Linked DNA regions of Homo sapiens: region 2 is linked to region 1. A link means that fine-mapping ties the variant in region 1 to the expression of a gene that starts in the linked region. Tissue or cell type: whole blood. Region 1 holds a variant in brackets; the other region holds the start of a gene. All regions are shown on one strand. Distances are from middle to middle.

Region 1 (5,145 bases):
GGAACAGAGAGAAGTCTGTGTTGTTTGCATCTGTTGATACAGGAAAACATTCCTGGTTCTTCATTGATTCATGAGCAATTATAATTAGATCGTCATCTTTCTGGAGAGGCAGCTGTGAACTCAACTAATGAACAATGGCAAAACAATCCTGGAATGACAGGCACACATGTGCAGACATGTGCCCAAATTCAAAGATGACGTCATGATCCCAATGACGCTCCCTACACTAGCTCGCGTGGCCTAGGCTTGAAAAGACTATAAAAGGGGCGGGCTGCTTTTTAAATTTACCACCTATCTCCCTGCCTAGACAGAAGGTCTTTAGTCTTGACTTGCCTTAACTATCACAGAGGAGAAACCTTAAAATGTGCACATATCTGGCTACTGTGCTAACACCCTAATCTCATTGAAAGTTGACCATTTATAATTTGGCATGAGCCCAACACCTCCTACTGAAGGTAGAATTTTTTGAGAGGGATGTCAGACTTTTTAATTGTCCTGAGGCACGAGTTAGAAAAGACTGAAAAAGGCCAGACGTGGTTGCTCATGCCTGTAATCCTAGCACTTTGTGAGGCCGAGGCAAGTGAATCACTTGAGCCCAGGAGTTCAAAACCAGCCTGGGCAACATGGTAAAAATCTGCCTCTACAAAAATTAGTTGGACGTGGTGGCATGCACCTGTGGTCCCAGCTACTCCGGAGGCTGAGGCTGGAGGATTGCTTGAATCCAGAAGGCGGAGGTTGCAGTGAGCAAGATTGTGCCGTTGTTGCACTCCAGCCTGGGCGATAGAGTGAGACTGTCTCAGAACAAAAAGAAGAAGAGACTACTCTAGAGTCTATGTCTACAGCAGTGACTGGAAACTGCCGACTGGTCACTGAAAATCAGTTTTCAAAAGTCAAAAACGGTATTTGGAAAAGTAGCTCTCCAAATATGTAATACTTTATTTCCATGTTCATTTTATTCATACTGAAAATGATCATAGGTCGGGCGCGGTGGTTCACGCCTGTCATCCCAGCACTTTGGGAGGCCTAGGTGGGCGGATCACTGGAGGTCAGGAGTTCAAGACCAGCCTGGCCAACATGGTGAAACCTTGTCTCTACTAAAGATACAAAAATTAGCTGGGCATGGTTGTACGCGCCTGTAATCCCAGCTACTTGGGAGGCTGAGGCAGGAGAATCACTTGAACCCAGGAGGCGGAGGTTGCAGTGAGCCCAGATCATGCCATTGCACTCCAGCCTGGGCAACAAGAGTGAGACTCCGTCTCAAAAAAAAAAAAAAAAAAAAAAAAAAGAAAATGATCACAGAGAAGGAAGGGCTTAAATAACAGTTGACAAGTCAAAATACAGCTCTGGTGCTCAAGTAACACAGTAAATTACCTGGTGAAGTTGGGAAGAGGTGGGGTACCGATTTCAAAAGATCATGCTGGGATATCTCTTTGGCCTCGAGTGGCTCGGCCCCCCAGCATCCAGGTGCTAGGCTGGGTGTGGTTCTCAGAGAAAAACATTGAGGGTCTTTAAATTCCTCAGATTTCCTTCCTTCAAGAGTCATAATCAGCTCTGAGCTACAGGCTCCCGGTGGAAAAGCAGCCCCAGAGCCAGATGAGGGGACAGGGGTCTATCTTTTACCTGAGATGATAAGACTACCTGGAAAAGAGCCATAATCACTGTCAAAAATGGTCACTGTGAGCCGTTAGAAATGAACACTTCTCCAGGTAACACTGTTTCCCCACTGCCTCCTGGTCACCTAGTTCTTACCAGGTACTTTATATACTTTATCTTACTGAATTTCCTCAAATCTTCAGGGTAAATATTTTAAAACCTACTTGAAACTCAGGGAAGTAACTTGCCCAAGGTTATACAGCTTGAACAAGTGGCATTTATGTGGAGGTTTAAATGATAAATGCTACCATGCATTCAGGGACAAAACCAAAGTAATCCTGTTTTACAACCCATGTTCAATCATTTGAAAAAAAAAAAAAGAGGAAAGACTCCCTTGAACAACTGAATGGGTTACGTAAACAACGGTGAGTCAGTGTAAGAACGTCCAACGCCCCTCCTCCAAGTGGGCTGACAACATCCTCATGAGTGCATTTCCCTTCTGCACAGCTCCAGTCCCTCCCAGCTGGGGGAGGCTCTCTCACGCCACCAGGGCATGGGCTTTTAAGGTGTCCCAGGCCTGAAAGGGACGGTGAGAGAGGCTGGAAGCCAGCTAGCTTGGAGGTGGGAGTGCAGAGAATCCTGTCCTCCCATGGGAGGCAGCAGCTCAGGGTGTCATGGTGCACAGGAGCCGGGGAGGGGGCAGCAGGTTGGGGGTGGGAATCACAGCCTTGCCACTGACTACTGCTCCACCTGAGCCTGAGTCTCCACACCTGTGAAAGGGGCAAGGGGCAGCCATTTATGCCTATTATGGAGGGTTGTCATGAGTATTAAGTGAGGACAGTGTACAAAAAGCACCCCATAAATGTTAGCTGTTATTACTATTAGACAATAACAACAAATGCCAGCGTCACAGTGTCTCGATCACTCTCACTGTCTGTAATGACTCCAGCATGAAAAGCTCCCAGCCACAGGCAGCTCCTGTCCATCCTCCAGATGCTGGCCTGTCTCTTCCTTGGGGAAGCGTCTCTGACCACCCTGAGAAAGGAAGGTCATCATACCCTTTCATCACACCCTGTGCCATCTTCCTTGGCAGCGCTATACCACATGGGTGTGCCTTTGTGTTTACGGTCCTGCCCCCCTTAGACTGTAAGTGCCATAGGGCAGGGTCTGTGCCAGCTTTGCTCATATTTCCTATTATCTCTCATTGCCTGGCATATAGAAGGTTCTCACTAAATGCTTCTTGAATAAATGAAACAAAACTGAATTTGTAAAGCTTCTCACCTAGAGAATCTTTGTTCTGGCTAAAATATTTTTAAAGCAATTGTGGAAAAGT[T/C]ATTTGCTCTGACATTGACAAGTTCATAACCTATAGGTTTCTCTCTCCTTTTTTTTTCCCCAGTCACTTTGAAAAATCAAGGAAATTTTTCTTTCAGACATGCCTTTCTACTAATGAAGTGGTGCTGTAATGACTCCATAGAGGAAATGTACTTGGGACTGCCACAGAGCTTTATGAGTGGAAACTCATTCTCCTCTGTTTTGGCTGCTCTAACTTGTGAACATCTCATCAGAATCAATTCGATAGAAGGAAACCTTAACAATGTTACCTGAAGAATAACAATTTTCAATAATAGCATTTTCAGAAGCCTAGACAGGAACAGCAGGGGTGGGTGGGCCAGAGTGACTCAGGGCTGCTGATAAAGCCCCAGGCCACGTTCCACTCTGCTCTGCTGAACCCAGTGTGCTACTGTGAGGACCAGATATGATAATGTACGTGCCTGTCCTCCAAATCCTGGAAAGGGCCATCAGCTCTGATCACAACAGCCACCCTGGGCTACATCCTTGAGTCTCGCTGCCCTAAGCAGATACTAGTAACTTTTTGGAATGAAGGGAACATGGGGAGGCTGGGCGCAGTGGCTCACACCTGTAATCCCAACATTTTGGGAGGTCGAGGCGGGCAGATCACCTGAGGTCAGGAGTTCGAGACCAGCCTGGCCAACATGGTGAAACCCCATCTCTACTAAAAATATAAAATTAGCTGGGTGTGGTGGCTCACACCTGTAATCCCAGCATCTCGGGAGGCTGAGGCAGGAAAATCACTTGAACCCAGGAGGCAGAGGTTGCAGTGAGCCGAGATCGCACCACTGCACTCCAGCCTGGGTGACAGAGTGACATTCCGTCTCAGAGAAAAAAAAAAAAAAGGAGAACATGGGAGAATTCAGAGGAAAATATTGATGTCATCTAGGCAAGCCCCTTTTACATGAACTCTATGGCCCCAGCAGACACGTCAGCCTCCCCTTAAATGCTGCTGGGGTTGGAGGGCCACCCAGATGTCCTGGCAAACACATATTTCATTCTGGAGCAATTTGCAATGCTGAGCAATGCTTTCTCAGCCTCTCTCTATAATTTAAGTCCTTTGGGGGTCCTTATTCTACTCTCCAGAGCTGCTGGGGAATGTTAAGCCAAGGAGGCAGTTTTCAGGAATTTGTTAGCCTCGTTGAGTGGGAAGGAATTTTTTTTGACCTGGGGTAAACACCTCAGCTATAATTTTGGATTGAGGGGTCCAGAAAGGAGAGGGACACAGGTTTTTCAAGCCAAGAGATCTGTTTACAAAGCATGCATCTAGCACCACATAATTAATAATAAATAGCAGCTAAGGCCTGACTGCTCCGTATGTGCCAGGTGCTGTTCTAGAAGCATTATGTGTATTGACTAGTGTAATCTTCCCTATAACCCTGAGATGCACGATGCTATTATTATACCTATTTCATAAAAGAGTTACTTAAGGTGCAGAGCAGTTGAGTAAACTGTTCAAGTTCATAGACTACGAAGTGGTGAACTTGGGATTCAAATCTAGCCAGGTGCTAAGGCTGGCCCCTTTCTACTACATTATATGGCCTCACACAACAGCGGGGTTTCCACTGTCCTGCTGCCTGCAGCCCTGGCCCTGACCCAAAGGCCCTTACCTGGTTCATGTCCAACATTCTGTCTTGCTTCCCATCCGCTAGGACTTATTTTCTCTATTAGGATTTGTCCCCCTGACCCCAATTCCAGACCTTCTATGGCCTTTGCTTCCCATCTTAACTAGGATTCACAATTTCTTATGCTGTTTCTGACTTCTCTGGATAGCAAATACACAGACCACATCACGGATATCAAGTAAATACAGAAAGTTCCATTTCTTACTCATCTCACTCCTGCTTTTCTACCAAGAATCCTAGAAGCTCCCAGAACATGAAAAGGTAGTGCTGATATGACATGCTGGGAGCTTTGCTTAAAGTCATTGTGAAAACGATCTCCATTGCATTTTGTCTAGCTGGCAAGCATGCTCAGCCAGCACGATGCTACGAAGACTCACTAAGATTTAATGCAGTGCTCAGTAAGGGCTGACTGCTCTAGACAGCTTTTCCCTAAGAGCCATTCGCACCAGTCCTGAGAGAAGTAAGTAGTTATGGGATAGAGCGCACCAACACCAGAGACGCAGAAAGACATTCTAATGTTTGAAGGTCAGGAGCAAGCTCTTATGTGACAAGCACCAGCAGGCAGGCTGCTCTAAGT
Region 2 (5,145 bases), 100 kb after region 1:
GCTACTCGGGAGGCTGAGGCAGGAGAATGGCGTGAACCCAGGAGGAGGCGGAGCTTGCAGTGAGCCGAGATCGCACCACTGCACTCCAGCCTGGGCAACAGAGCAAGACTCCGTCTCAAAAAAAAAAAAAAAAATTTTTTTTAAAGTAGCAATGAGGTCTCGCCATTTTGCCCAGGCTTGTTTCAAACTCCTGGGCTCAAGTGATCCTCCTGCCTTGGCCTTCCAAAATGCAGGGATTACAGGCGTGAGCCACTGTACCTGGCTGACAGATGATTTCCAATCCGGTTCATTTTACTTTTCTGTGATTTCCAAGTTTTGACAATGAACATAGAATATTCTTATATTATAAAGATATAAAACATAATATAATCTTATATTAGATATAAAAAGATATAATATAATCTTATATATTATAAAGTTCTTATAAAAGAACTCAGTGAATGTTCTTTTTAAAATAAATTATCCAAGTTTCCCAACAGTACCGTTCTGACAAGACACTATACAAGAAGTTCCTGAGAAATGCTGCACAGATGAACCCAAGTTATTTCTGGAGCAGCAGGTGTACAGGATGGCGACTCATGGTCACTCGGCAAGGCTGTGGGGGCTCAAATTCAGTGAGAAAAATACTCAAGAAATGGCACCTGAACCCAAGCGCCCTGCCCCTGAGAAAAGCACCCTGGCTTCTGGTCAGAGGGCCAGGAATGAATATACTAGGGGCCTGCCGCCCTCTTGCTGTCTGGACAGCCGGAACTCACTGAACCTCTCTGAGCCTGTAAAACTGGGACCATATTCTTTCCCACAGACTAGCTTCAAAAATTTAAGAAGCAATGCATTTTAGGTGCTAAGAGTTAGATATATAGTAAACCCTCAATAAAGCCTACAAAAATGTCCTTCTGTGCTTCAACCACAGCCTGCAAAAGTCATATTGCCTTGTGGGTCCGCTGCAGGGGTGCACCCCACAGAAGTATCCCAGATTCAACCCAGGAAACATAAGCAACTTCCACAATCAAAGCCACAGACCTCCTTTGCAGCTCCCTAAAAATCTGCTTTCCCTCATTCAGCCGCCAAGCTAACCTGCTACCGGGGTTATGACCACAGGGCATGCTCCCAGTACAGGAGCCCAGGAGCACCCGCCCACTTCACCTTAGACCCAAGAATTCGCATTTGCCCTGCAAGGTGCTGCAGGCTAATAAAGCCTGGGGCCCCACAGGCTCGACAGTCATTGAATCTTTGGAGACTCTATTTCCAGGACAGGCAAACCCAGGGACTCGGAAGGTAACTCCCCCAGATTTCTAGGAACACACAAAGAGACGAGGTCTGCATCAAGATTTACCATCTACTCCAACCCACCGGTCCCCCACCTGCCCTCCTTGCAGAGCTGAGCTTGATCGGGGTGGGGAGGGGAAACTTGACTACCTCCTCAAAATACCCCCACTCATCCAGCCTGCTTCCTTTGAAGCAACCGAAGTGGACGCTTCTCGTTAAACTCGAAGCTCGTTAGAAATGACACATTTTACAGCTCAGCTGGGTTCACCCTCCTAGCGCCGAGCCCAGGCCGGGCACCGATCGCTGCAGCCGCAGCAGCACGCGGCCCGGGCTGTTCTTCCCCTGCTTGGGGCTCGAGCCATTTTCGGAAGTTCCCGGGGACCGCGGAGCGGCTAGCGCGCCCGGCCCCGGGTTGCAGGGGCCCCGCCCGGCCCGGCCCCTGGCGCCCCCGCAGCGGCCGCTTCCCCCCGCGCCCGGCAGGCAATGGGCCTGGAGGAGAAGCTGCCAGGCGCCCCGGCGAGGCCTCGGTGGCTTCACCCCGCCCCGGCGCACGGAGGGCCGCACATCCCGGGCGACCCGCGCTCGGCCCGGGGAGCGGCGGAGCCCCAGGGCCGGGCCCGGCCGGAGGGAGCCGCCCCACGCCCGCGCCTCACCTGCTTTCTCGATCTTGCCGGACATTTCCGGGCTGCGCCGGAGGCCGAGGCCGCCGCTCATCGGGCCCGGGCCGGGCCGCCGCGGGGCGACAGGGGCGGCGCGCCCGCCGCTCGCCTCGGCCCTGGCTCGCCACGCCTCAGACCCGCGCCGGCATGGCGGGCTCCGCGCGGCCGCGGCCCTGCGCTCGGCGACCGCGCTCCAGCCCGCCCGGGCCCAGCCGCTCCCGCCGCGCCCGCCGCCGCCGCTCCGCCTCCCGCGCGCCCGCCGCCGCTCCCCCGGCCCGCGAGCCGGCCGCAGCGCAGCGACGCCGCCCGCCCGCCCGCCGGGCCTCGGCCGCGGCCACGGCCACAGCGCCACCTGCCGGGCGCCCGCCGCGCCGCCACAGCGCCCCCTGTGGGCCCGGAGCCGCCCGAGCCTCCCGCGCGACGCGCGAGACGCAGCGCCCCCTGCCGAGCCGGAGTCCCCACGCCGGGGCCTGGGGCCTGGGGTGTGGGGCCGACCCCGCCTGGGACTCCGCATTCCTCTGCTGTGGGACCAGAGTCACCAGCTCCAGACCTGGGACTGACAGCTCCAACCCAGGGTCCTCGGTTGCCCAAGAGCCTGGCCTGCCCCCTCACCAGAGACACAGAGAACCCTCCTGGGTCAGATTTTCCACCCCAGGACGTGGAACTGACGCCCACCCCACCCTAGCATCATCCCGGACCCAGCATCCCCTGTGGGCCAGAGGCTCCACACCAGGGCCTAGAACTCACTCTCACCAGGACTCAACAAGCTCTGCTGGCTGGGAGCCTGTCCTGACCTCCCCCAAACCAGAGATGCAGCACCCCCTTTTTTGTTTTGTTTTTTGTTTTTGAGACCGAGTCTCACTTTGTCGCCAGGCTGGAGAGCAGTGGCGCGATCTCGACTCACTGCAACCTCTGCCTGCCGGGTTCAAGCAATTCTCCTGCCTCAGCCTCCTGAGTAGCTGGGATTACAGGCACATGCCACCATGCCCAGCTAATTTTTGTATTTTTAGTAGAAACGGGGTTTCGCCATGTTGGCCAGGCTGGTCTCGATCTTCTGACCTCATGATCCACCCACCTTGGCCTCCCAAAGTGCTGGGATTACAGGTGTGAACCACTGCACCCTGCCCGCACCCCCTTCTTAATTGGAGACCCCACACCAGGGCCTGGGAGTGGCCTCATAGCACCTCCTGCCAGCCCAGAGGCTCCAGCCGGGGAATGAGTCCACTCTGGCATGAAAGCCCTCTGCTGGCCCAAGGTCTATGCCAAGGCGGAGGATTCATTCTCCACCCCAGCCCTGCATGTGGGACTCAGTCACCCTGCCAGCGAGAGCCACCTGTCCCGGGCTGGGGTTGGCCCTACTCAGGCCTAAATGTCCCCTGAGGCCTAGAGCCTCCATGCTGGCCTGGGCCCAACTCCCTCAGGGACACAGCACACCCTGCCTGCCCTGCTTATTTGACATCCAGAAGGGCACCCTGGGGCTCAGCTGTGGAACTTTTCTAGTGTGGAAATGAGTTCATTAAAAGTCGTGGCTGGGCACGGTGGCTCACGCCTGTAATCCCAGCACTTTGGGAGGCCGAGGCAGGTGGATCACGAGGTCAAGAGATTGAGACCATCCTGGCCAACATGGTGAAACCCCATCTCTACTAAAAATACAAAAATTAGGTGGGCATGGTGGCACACGCCTGTAGTCCCAGCTACTTGGGAGGCTGAGGCAGGAGAATCTCTTGAACCCAGGACATGGAGGTTGCAGTGAACCGAGATCATGCCACTGTACTCCAGCCTGGTGGCTCCAGAGCGAGACTCCGTCTCAAAAAAAAAAAAAAAGTCGTGGTTGGGCACAGTGGCTCACGGCTGCAATCACAGCACTTTGGGAGGCTGAGGTGGGTGGATGACTTGAGCCCAGGGGTTCGAGACCAGCCTGGGCAATGTGTGAAACTCCGTCTCTACTAAAAATACAAAAATTAGCCAGGCACGGCGGCACCTGCCTGTAGTCCCAGTTACTTGAGAGGCTGATGAGGGAGAATCACTTGAGCCCTGGAGGCAGAGGTTTCAGGGAGTCATGATTGCACCACTGCACTCCAGCCTGAGTGACAGAGGAAGACCCTGGCTAAAAAAAAAAAAAAAAAAAAGGAAAAAAAAAGTCATTTAAGAATCAAAGGATCTGCTAAGTCTAAGCACTATTTCGGGTTCTGTGGGCCCTACAAAAGTGGGCACAATTGGTGCTTCCCTCCAAAGAGTTCACAACTTAGCTGGGAAGTCAAAGTTAAATCCTATAATACAAGTAGTAAATAACAACAAATTAGTAACGCAAGTGATGTTCCAATGTGGGGCAATTCTGCTGCCTGCTTCCTGTTGTTAGTCTAAGATGGAATACAAAGAAGTAGCACGCACCACCTGGGCTAGTTTTCCCTCCTGTTTCCCCCAAAATAAGTAAATTAAATAACCTAGTGATGGGGACAGGATTTGGGGGAGGTGCAGGGAGGAGGAAAAACTGCTAATGTTGTGAGAGATTCTTATTCCCATCTCCCTGGACAGTCTAAAGGGTCACCGATTCCACAACTAAGAGCTAGTCAGGCCGGGTGTGGTGGCTCACACCTGTAATCCCAGCACTTTGGGAGGCCGAGGTGGGTAGATCACCTGAGTTCAGGAGTTCGAGACCAGCCTGGCCAACATGGTGAAACCCCATCTCTACTAAAAATACAAAAAATAGCCGGGCGTGGTGGTGCGCGCTGGTAGTCCCAGCTACTCAGGAGGCTGAGGCACGAGAATCACTTGAACCTGGGAGGCAGAGGTTGCAGGGAGCCAAGATCGCGCCACTGCACTCCAGCCTGGGTGACAGAGCGAGACTCCCTCTTTAAAAAAAAAAAAAAGGAGATGGTCATAGATGGCAGCCAAATTTCCCATCATCATTTCATCAGTTGCAGCCCTCTAGAGGTCAAAGGCAAATCCAAAGATTGACAAATTCATTTCCCTCTTCCACCTGATGAATGGATGCTCTGATCCAGGGTGGCCCTGTTCAGCCCTCTTGGCAGATGCCTTACCAGGCAAAACTGGCCCCTGGTCCCAGGCCCAACCCCAAAACACACTCAATGCTGCCCCCAACCCTTCTAGGCTTCTGAGCTGAGAAGAGCCGATATTTTAAATCCAAAATCCTGGTTGAAAAGTAGAAAACTAGACTGCATGGATACTAGGTGCAGTCAGGGGTTTGTGAGAACACAAA

Evidence for each region. PIP is the estimated chance that this variant, and not a neighbour inherited with it, causes the effect.
Region 2: it holds the start of RAPGEF1, and the variant in region 1 is fine-mapped to the expression of RAPGEF1 in whole blood (INTERVAL, PIP above 0.99).

What each region holds. Positions count from the first base shown.
Region 1 is chr9:131,633,455-131,638,599 of GRCh38, forward strand. The region is part of intron 5 of RAPGEF1 (Rap guanine nucleotide exchange factor 1); the gene reads right to left. Among named protein-coding and RNA genes, the nearest start is that of PRRT1B, 91 kb to the left of the region's middle. RefSeq lists an enhancer at 3,208-3,502. The variant T/C (reference allele first, on the strand shown) is at 2,927.
Region 2 is chr9:131,737,851-131,742,995 of GRCh38, forward strand. RAPGEF1 (Rap guanine nucleotide exchange factor 1) reads right to left here and starts at 2,226. Exons shown (of 27, transcript NM_001377935.1): 1 at 1,920-2,226. The coding sequence starts at 1,980. RefSeq lists silencers at 1,610-1,939, 1,990-2,039, 2,190-2,449.